Linked DNA regions of Homo sapiens: region 2 is linked to region 1. Evidence: fine-mapped expression QTL. A gene starts in region 1. The other region holds a variant in brackets. All regions are shown on one strand. Distances are from middle to middle.

What was found. PIP is the estimated chance that this variant, and not a neighbour inherited with it, causes the effect.
Region 2: its variant is the best candidate, but not a certain one, in a credible set for the expression of PPP1R12B in whole blood (INTERVAL, PIP 0.82).

What each region holds. Positions count from the first base shown.
Region 1 is chr1:202,346,372-202,351,872 of GRCh38, reverse strand. It overlaps PPP1R12B (protein phosphatase 1 regulatory subunit 12B), which reads right to left and starts at 3,174. Exons shown (of 24, transcript NM_002481.4): 1 at 2,731-3,174. The coding sequence starts at 3,021. RefSeq lists enhancers at 2,906-3,215, 2,887-3,427.
Region 2 is chr1:202,548,739-202,553,952 of GRCh38, reverse strand. All of the region lies in intron 18 of PPP1R12B (protein phosphatase 1 regulatory subunit 12B), which reads right to left. Among named protein-coding and RNA genes, the nearest start is that of SYT2, 160 kb to the left of the region's middle. The variant C/T (reference allele first, on the strand shown) is at 2,116.

The sequences.
Region 1 (5,501 bases):
CCACAAGCTGCAGTGCAAATCATCTACTGTGACGTTGTAGGAGGAGAAAAATTGTCCCCCAGTATTATCTGGGGGCTTCTAACATGCCAAGACAATAATCCACAGTTGGTCAAGTGGCCATGGCCAAAAGAGAGAAAAGAAGCAATTATCCAGATAATTTATATCGTGCTTGTATAACAAATGGACATTTTAAATAAATAATTCAGATAATTGTACCACTCACTCTCCATTTCACAGAAGGTGAATCCATTGTAAAGTAGGTGGTTCAGCTACCAACAGCTCCAGTCTCCCATTTGAAAATAGTCTTTTATGTACCTTAGGAGTTCTCCAGGTCGGCCATGCGCGGTGGCTCATGCCTGTAATCCCAGCACTTTGGGAGGCCGAGGCAGGCAGATCATTTGAGGCCAAGAGTTTGAGACCAGCCTGGCCAACATGGCGAAACCCCATCCCTACTAAAAATACAAAAATTAGCTGGGCATGGTGGTGGGCACCTATAGTTCCAGCTACTTGGGAGGCTGATGCATGAGAATAGCTTGAACTTGGGAGACGGAGGTTGCATGCAGTGAGCTGAGACTGCACCACTGTACTCCAGCCTGGGAGATACAGTGAGACACTGTTTTTTTTTTTTTTAAACAACAACAACAACAACAACAACAACAAAAACTTCTCCAAGTCATGGAGACACACATTGTAACTCTTCGGAAACTGACTTGTAATGTTCTGAAGCCAATAAAGGCCCGTTGTCTTGATTCAAAGATACAGTTTCTCAACAGACCTCAAATCTTTAAGCAGCTTAATTTTTAGCTGAATTTGTCTAGAATCGAGTATACTTGTTCAGTTCAACTCCTTGTCAGCCCTATAAATGGAAAGGAATGCTTATATTGCATTTATAGATGTTAAAAAAAAATCCATAGCTGTCATCCCCTTCTTCTCTTATTTCAATAGATTACTAGGCCAGGCACAGCGGCTCATGCCTATAATCCCAGCAGTTTGGGAGGCCAAGGAGGGTGGATCTCCTGAGGTCAGGAGTTTGAGACCAGCCTGGTCATCATGGTGAAAGCCCATCTCTACTAAAAATACAAATATTATCTAGGCGTGGTGGCAGGCGCCTGTAATCCCAGCTACTCGGGAGGCTGAGGCAGGAGAATCGCTTGAAACCAAGAGGCAGAGGTTGCAGTGAGCCAAGATCTCGCCATTGCACTCCAGCCTGGGCAACAGAGCGAGACTCTGAATCAAAAAAAAAAAAAGAAAAAGAAAAAGAAAAACAAGAATTCACCTTCCCAAAGAGTTCAGAAATTTAAAGTTTAGAATTTAATGTGGTTCTCTTAGCTTTTATCTCATTTTACATTCAGCTCCTTATTAAGTGAGATAGAGATCTCTGTGACATAAGTCTGAAAAATCCATGCCTATGGGCCACTTCTTTACTTTCTAACTTTGCACAAATAATTTTCCTGAGCTTCAGTTTCCTCATCTGTAAAATGAGAATAACAACACTACCTGCCACACCTACTTCAAAGGATCACTGCTGAAACTCACATGGGGTAAGACATATGAAATCAAACAGCAAAGCACTCTACAAATATTGGTTACTACCTCAGGTGGGGAAATATTATCAGCAGGAAAAAAAAATGGGTACAAAATAGGGTGAAAGAGTTTCTTCTACCTGAAATAGAAGGGTTGCAAACATAGTGAGAAGTAACTTTTTAAGCTATTGGCTAAATATATTTAGGGAAGTGGTCTGATATAAAGTTGAGTTATTATTTAGAAGTAGATTCTCATGCCAATACATTCACTTTGCACAGACGGCAGAAGAAGAAAAATACAAAAGATTAAGAGTGGGTGTCCGGCTCTCAGCTCACCAAAATAACTGATGAAGTTCCATTTGAGGAGAGAGGGGTAGTTAGTCATGGCAGTCAGTAGACAGAGAATATTGCTGCATTAGGTGACAGAAGTAAAGGTGTCGTTACCAAGCACAGATTATCCACAATCCATATAGTATAGCTATACATGGGGCATGGGATTTCTATAGAGCACTTTAGAAAAAAAAATAGAAAAATAGAAAAGCTATTCCATAAGTATCAAACAGAGGTAATTCAGTAACTTAGTTCTCCATAGGAAGCTCTCAGGGAGGTAGCACTGCTGAGAAGGAAGTTAAGATACCTAAAACAACGAGGTCCAGCGTGTTCTAGGAGCTGTAGCCTAGAGGCAACACAAACTGTTTTGAAGTACTACAAATCAACAAAACAAGAGGTGTGGTTTCAGACCTGCTTGTCTTTACCCAGTAAAGGGCTTTACTCTTTAAGTGATATAAGATATTCTATAACGGGGACACACAACAACTGAATTTTCTGAAAGGGCATCAAACAAATGACACTGTGCCTATGAGTGACGCGGTGTGCAGGCACGCCAACCAGACATAAGTGAAGATAACTAATCTACAGGGATAAGACCAGGGACAAAAATCACCAGTAACCATGACAACACAAGTAGGTGGAGGGAAATACAAACACTGACCAAGCAGCGGGGTGACGCTATTCCTAAGACCCTGGGGTCAGAAAAAGACTTGATTAGTGGAGGAAGCTGGCCAAGAATGAAACCGATTAGCCCAAAAGGGCAGTGTCCATGCAGAAGGAGTCGGCGGCAACACTGATACTCCCCATGGGGTGGCTCGCAGGGTCAAAGGCTCATCTGTAGGAGACTGGACGCCTCTAAGACCAAGAAAGGAGTTACCTGGTGCAGGGCTGTCAAGCCGTCCACGTTGACCGTGTTGATATCAGCACCTCTTGCCAGAAGCTTTCTCACCTCGTCGGTGTCCCCGCTAGAGCAGGCGGCCAGAAAGACAGCACCGTCCTCGAAGCGGACCCTGGGGCTCCCGCGCCTGGTCAGCGGCTGCCGCCCCGCGCCTCGTCGCTCCGCAGGCTCCTGCTCTGTCAGCGAGCCCCGCCAGCGCCGAAGCTGCTCTGCCCGCCGCATTCGCGCCGACTCTGCCCGCTTCCCTCCTAGGTGCTCCAGTTCCGCCATTGCTCCGGCCTCGGCAGCTGCTGCCAAAACTACCAACACTAAATTACTGTTGGGGCTCGAGTTGCCGCTGCCGCCTCTCTCAGAGCGCTTCAGCCCGGAGCAGAGGGCGGAGACCCTCGCGCCGCCATCTTTACTCCTCCCGCCAGTAGTACCGCCCGCACGCTCCCTCGGCTTCAATACGCAGGCGCTGCCCGGCCTCGGGTCATCACGGGACTCGTAGTAAGAGGCCTGCCCTAAGTGCACTTGGTGGCCGTAAGGGAACTACAAATCCCTGGATGCATCAGAAAAAAGGCGAGGACCGGCGGCTCTCTCTTTCGCCACGGGACCCAGTGGGGTCACCTTTGCCCTAAAGCTGGAACTGTCTCCTGGACTGGCGTCAGCCTCTTCCTCTGGGCATTTTGGGAGTTGTAGTTTATTCTTGTTATGACTAGTAACTAATCTTATCTCCCTAATTATCACATCAATTCTTTGGAGTGGAAAAAAGGCGGTAATTATTCCTGTTTTCTGGAGGAGAGAACTAAACATTAAGTACCTAAACGACTGGATTCTATATCCTAGTTCTAAGTCTAGGGTTTTATTAACATGTGTATTAATCACGGTAAATGTGAATGAGCGTGGGGAAGAGGAGCATACATACAGATACAGTATTACATGTTTTACATAAATACTGTCAACTTACTCCAGGCCCAGAAAAGATCTTGAAAATGATGCATTCAGATGTAGTGAAAAGAGTTTAAGCTGTGAATTTAAATTGAATTCACAGCCGCAGACAAATTACTTGACTTCTCTTAGCCAGTTTTCTTATGTGTAAAATGGGAATAACATCTCACAGGGTAGTCATGTGGATCAAATGAAATAATACATGCAAGGATGCCTAATACTATCTTTGGCACATATTGGATCCCAATAAATAATTTCTCTTCCTTCTCCCTCCTCCTCCTCCTCTACTCTTTTCATATACCTTAAATTTTTACAAGACAGAATAGATGTCTTCCATGATTTTTATTTCTTTTCTTTTGAGACAGAGTCTCACTCTGTCACCCAGGCTGAGTGCAATGGCGCAATCACGGCTCACTGCAGACTCAACCTCCTGGGCTCAAGCGATCCTCCCACCTCAGTCTCCCCAGTAGCTAGGACTACAGGTGCCCACCACCACACCCACTATTTTTTTATTTTTTTGTAGAGACAAGGTCTCACCATGTTGCCCAGGCTGGTCTGGAACTCTTAGACACAAGCGATCCTCCTGCCTCAGCCTCCCAAAGTGTTGGTATTACAGCCCTGAGCCACTGTACCTGTCCCATGATTTTTTTTTTCAAAGCTAGAGAAAGATACTATCAAGCATACTAAATCATACTAAATTCCTAAGGTAGCAAATAGAACATTTTTATATTCACCAAGACTGGGTTATAAAACATGTATCTGTCCGATTGTTTTGTTTTGTTTTGTTTTGTTTGAGACAGGGTCTCGCTCTGTCACCCAGGCTGGAGGGCAGTGGCATGGTCGTGGATCACTGTAGCCTCAACCTCCCAGGCTGAAGCGATCCTCCCACCTCAGCCCCCCAAGTAGCTGGGACTACAGGCCTGTGTCACTATGCCTGGCTAACTTTTGTATTTTTTGTAGAGACAGGGTTTTGCCATGTTGCTCAGGCTAGTCTTGAGCTCCTGGGCTCAAGTGTTCCACCCACCTCAGTCTCCCAAAGTGTTGGTATTACAGGCATGAGCCACCGCATCCGGCCAGTCCGATTGATTTAATAAGTATAACCTCCAGTGCTCTAGCCCTGAACAAAATACAATTAAATGTGTTACCCATAATGAAAGAGTACATATGCAAATGTTAGATTCTTTAAACGTTTCTGTATGTTTAAAATTTTTCATTTAAAAAATGTTGCAAAATGATTGGGGTATTGTAAAGGGAAACTTTATTATATTCTGTCATGTGAAAATTTGCCTGTTCCTCAATTTCCCCTGAAATGAAGTGGAAATCATACATTAAGGAAACAATTAATTATTGAATTGAAAGCCTCAAATGAAAAGTGACATATAAATGTAAAAAATATTATGTTTAATAATACTGTGTCTAAACACCATATGCTTTAGTAGGATATTCTTAAATACATTATAAATACTAATTAAACCTCATGTCAAATCTGTGTACTATCAATAACAATGTACATAAGGAAAATCAAGGTATAATAATGTATACATTATGTAACCTCATTTTCCTTGCTACATGCATTTATTTATGGCCACCATAGAACTTGTCATGTCTCATCATTTATTGCAATTAAAAATTCTTGGCCAGACGCGATGGCTCACGCTTGTAATCCCAGCATTTTGGAAGGCCAAGGCGGGCAGATCACTTAAGGTCAGGAGTTCGAGACCACCCTAACATGGTGAAACCCCATCTCTATTAAAAATACAAAAATTAGCCAGGCACAGTGGCAGGTGCCTGTAATCCCAACTACTCAGGAGGCTGAGGCA
Region 2 (5,214 bases), 200 kb before region 1:
TCAAGAAAGCTGACTGCCAACCCTGCAGGGAGACTACTAAGTAAATCTAGAGGAGATAAGACAGAGTGGGAGTTTGCCTAAGTAATCTCAGGGGAACAGTGAGCCAGGAAGTGACATCAGAAGAGGCAAGCAGAACATAAGGTAGGGAAATGAACACTGAAGCTTCTCCCAGAGAAGAGGATTCTAAGAGGTCAGCTGAGTGGGCAGAAAATAAGGGGAAGTCCTAGAACACAAGGCTTAGGGACTCCAGCCAAATCGATGATCCTTTAGAGGCTAGGAATGCGGACTCATCTTATCTATGCTCTGGCAATGGTCCCATCCTTCCATCCTCCTCCTCTGTACACTCCCTCTCTCTTCTCAAAAACAGAAGTTAGTCTACTCTGTAAGTAGAGTCTGAATAGCTTATCTGCACATGATGATATCATATATTTTAGAAAAGGCATGAATCTTTTCTCCAATTGGTAGGTTAATTCACAAATTTATTATGCTGTATGCTCTAATCTGGAAGTCTTAGAACTTCTCTAAGTGTTTTTGTTAAAGATTGTTTTGCTCTACCTTCTGTTGAAGACAAATGATGGCCACTAAAATGAGACTCTCTAGTGTGTCTGAACTAGATAGAAACTGTTCAAAGAAGGAATTACTTTCACAGCTTTTATGGCCCAACTGGGGACAACAGATAATGTAAATGAGACTCTAGAGAAGAAGAGACTAAAAGCTGCTCAGAAACCAATATGAATACATTGTAGAGTAGAGGTAAAAAGAATGATTAGCTGGATAGACCATAGTTTTAAAAATGTCCCAAAACTAAGAAGCAGACTTCTTTCTTTCATACCTCTTGAAATTCTCCCGTAATAATCTCATTGCTTGGGCCTGTTTCTAATAAAAGAACAGAATGAAGATCACCATTAATTCAGATGGCAATCCTAGAAAGGGACAGAAACCAGACTGGTTTTGATTTGTGAAATGTGTAGGGCCCTCAAAACACCAGAGACTGGCTTAGAAAAATCCCCACAAAAACTTTTAACTTGAAAGTTATCAGGAGTTCAGGAAGGCACATAATTAAAACCAAACTCCTACCAAGTTTAAAATAAAATTGTGGCTCAGGAAAGCTGGGCCCAAGGGAAAGGAATGAGACCAAGTCACATGTCTGCTGCCAAGGCTGAAACTGGTTTAACTCAAGTTCCTTTTGAAGTCATGGCTTGACCCCACAGTGATGGGAAAAAACTTCTATTTACATTTTCTCCTGAAGAGGGACTAAGCAGAAGGAACATTTTATATTATGTTCTTGTGTACTAGCTGAGCCAGGGGAAACAATTTGAGCTATTCTGGGATGGTCTACAGAGAACCATCTTCTTTCCCTTCAGTTTTCTCAGAATATTGACTGATGATGAACAAGCCAATGATGTGAGTGTGGCTGCAGCAAGGACCCTTCAAATTTTCAGAGGTACTGCAAACCTAATCATGGTCTGAGTTAATTGCAAAATAGTATAATTTTGTAACTTTTGAGTTTAAGAATCATTCTGGTTTCATATATAAGTCTAAGAGAGACAAAAGTTTTCCATCCTTCTATCTTAAGGGAAAAGATTTCTTCATAATTCAAACAGAGAAGATTCTTAGGAAACTTGAAATAAAGAGAATCTACCAGTCTCTAACTTTGAAGTGAAGCCTGCATTGTTCTAGTAATTTATCTGGGGATCCTGCATAATCTGGAAATAAATGTGAGGGTGGAACAACAACTTCCAAGATTTATGCAAAGATGTGACAGTAGAGGGCAATGATAATGAGGCCTATGCTGTTTTTTATATCAAAAAAATTATCATCAAATTTTCAATTTCATTAGTTTTCTATTGCTGCCAAAACAAAATTTAGTGGCTTAAAACCATTTATTATCTCACAGTTTTGTAGGTCAGAAGTCTGCACAGTTCTGCTGGGTTCCCTCCTCAAGTTCTCAACGGTCTGAAATCAAGGAGTCTGCTGCTGGCTTTTATCAGGAGCATCTGGGGAAGAATCTGCTTCAAGCTCATCCAGGCTGTTGGCAGGAATCCAGTCCTGTGAGGTTTCAGGTACCCACTGCCTTGCAGGGTAGTGGCTGCTTACTGCTTGCAGAAGCTCCTA[C/T]ATTCCTTTTCACATGGCCCTTCTGATTTTCAAACCAGCATTGAAGCACTGAGTTCTTTTCGCACTTCACATTTCTCTGGCTTCCCGTTCCATCATCTGCTGAGAAGGCTCTCTGCCTTCACAGGCTCATGTGATTAGCTCAGGCCCACCCAGGAAAACCTCCCTAACTTAAGGTCAACTGTGCTATGTAACAGAACAATCATGCGAGAGCTATCTTGTCATATACGTGGGTTCTACAGATCAGGTGAGGACTTTTGGGGAGGCATTTTAGAAATTCCAACTATCACAAGGATCTCCCTTAAAAAAAAAATGGTTTAATTTATCTGTAACATCCTAAAAGAAACATCCATAGCACATGGCCTCTCAGCTGCACTAGGTGATTACATACATTCAGAATCAGGGCAATACCAAAAGTGCTGTCTTATGCAGGGAAAAAAACAGGCGTCCATGTGACCTGGTATACATATGTGTAAGAGAGTATACTTCCAAGGAAAAATTAACTTTTAAAAGCAAGTATTAAATCACATATGTCTTCATCATATTATATGTCTTGATTTGTCTTTACTGACTACTTAATACATATAGAACAAAAAGTTAAACATAGTCAAATACAGTATTTACATTCAGTTCATATTATAAATATTTCTGAAAAATCTCATATGCCAGATTGTGACTACCCTATCAATTTAAGGCATGTAAAAATGATATCATGTAACATCATCTCACATATTGCAGCACATATCACTATATTTTAAAAGAAAAACCATTAAGTTCATTAAATGATAGACTCATCTTTTGTTGTCTCTATTGTGCTACCTAATATTATTAGAATTTTAAAGCTCTTAGCATCTATGCAGACCTGCACCTCCCTTTTGTGAATATTCCCAGCTTCTGAAGAATTTCTGATCTTTTGGAAACTCACAAAATGCACTCATTGTAGAAGGAAATATATGGATATACTAAGGCCTCCATAAAATACCTAAGGCAAGCCATTTTATATGTATAATTCATAAACTCTTGTGATTCATAAATGCATTTGCAGCCTCCGGCATATTTTCCATCGAGCCTTTCACATGCTGTGTACTATATAGGATGAAAATGACCAACAGGGGAATGAGGAGCTCTAAAACTTGTGTGGCTCTAGCACATGGGTCACATTTCTCACATTTAATATCTATATTTACTTTCCCCATAGCTTGGAGTTTTAGGTTCACACAGATGTGTATGGGCATCTGAAACTATGAAATACATTCAGATGATTTTAAAAAAAAACACAGCCTCAATGAACACCTAAGAAGCCTGATCAGTCCCTCCAAAATATTGTTAGAATACAGCATAGAGTATATCGTAAATTTTAAAAGTCCTTATTTAGGCCTTAAATCCCACTGTTTGAGTTTCACTCCATTTCTCTAATTGAGATTCCAGGTCTCTCCCCACTAGCCTGTCATGATGTTACTGACCACCATTATACCTATTTAGGAAGTAAGCTTTCCATGAAGCCTGGGAAGAGACGGGTTTTTTCATATGGTAAATGTCACAGTCCAGCAGCCTGTTTGGGTAGCAGTAACTTTATTTTTATTTGGACTAGGCTGTGAATCAAAACTTTTACAAAGGAATTAGTGAGGCTCTCCAGACCTCACATTTCATGAGGAAATAAATATTAATACTTGGGACCTAAGTAACATAGGGTAGAACTTTTTATTTCTAGTAGATTCCACAGGCTTTTTCTCTTTTGATTCCCACAAAAACAAAAATATTAACTCACATATTTTGGAGTGACCAATATACTAGCAAATTGCAATAAACAGGAATCTGAATTGACTTGGGAAGATCTATGGTTAGCCTTCATGTTAGAAATAAGATTCTCAAGTGTGTGTGGCCTCTGACTCCTTTCCAGATGGCTAAATGGGATAGGAGCGGAGAGATCAAATCTCAGGCAGCAGCATTCATTCCCTGCATTTACATTAAGCACCTGTATGTGCCCAGCCTTGTGAGTAGTACTTACAGGAATAAAATCGACAATTACAGAATCTAAGACATGGCTCTTTGATCTCAAAGAGCTCTTCTCTGAGGAGGTAAAATATGCACACTCATAAAACAGAGTGTAATTCAAGAAAGTTGGCCGGGCACGGTGGCTCATGCGTGTAATACCAGCACTTTGGGAGGCCGAGGCGGGTGGATCATGAAGTCAGGAGATTGAGACCACCCTGGCTAACACGGTGAAACCCCGTCTCTACTAAAAATACAAAAATTAGCCAGGTGTGGTGGCGGGCACCTGTAGTCCCAGCTACTCGGGAGGCTGAGGCAGGAGAATGGCATGAATCCGGAAGGCAGAGCTTGCGGTGAGCAGAGATCACGCCACTGCACTCCAGCCTGGGCAACAGAGCGAGACTCCGTCTCAAAAAAAAAAAAAAAAAGGTAATTGATTAAATGCAATCAAATGTTAGACCATCTAGTACATACAGTAAATAAAAAGGGGTAGTTAGGAAAGGGAGAGACCAATACTGACTAGATATTCTTGGCAAGGTGATAATGGAAGGAACAAGCTTAGTGGATACATCAGCTTGAAGTCTGAAACTGGGTGGTCATGAAAAATGACACTATTATGTGTGACTTGTAAGTGATCTTACATAAGTTGGGGCCTTGCGAGGGCCACAGTCATCCCAAAGTGCTAGTCTGCCTTGAAAGATGAAGTTCAGAAGGATAAAGAACTGAAGCTTTCTTTGATTCTTCCACTTTCATACCCCCAATAGGGAACTTGAGTCTTCAAATGCACAAGGTTCTTATTTAGGGGGCTAAACCACCTCCCAGAGCAGAACAGGTATTTTAAAATGTAGACTTTTGGGACAGGGGATGCTTTTGTAGTTTATTTTCTTGGTTTTGGCAGGGAAGGGTCTCCTCAGATGAGAAAAACCTCAGTAATTCAGGCCCTACTAATTCAGAACTTGTTACAATTTAACAGGTCCTGAGTTTTATCATAGATACTTATAAATACTAAAATTATATATATATATATATATATATATATAGAGAGAGAGAGAGAGAGAGAGAGAGAGAGAGACAGCGAGCGAGTGAGCGAGCGCATGATCATGGCTCACT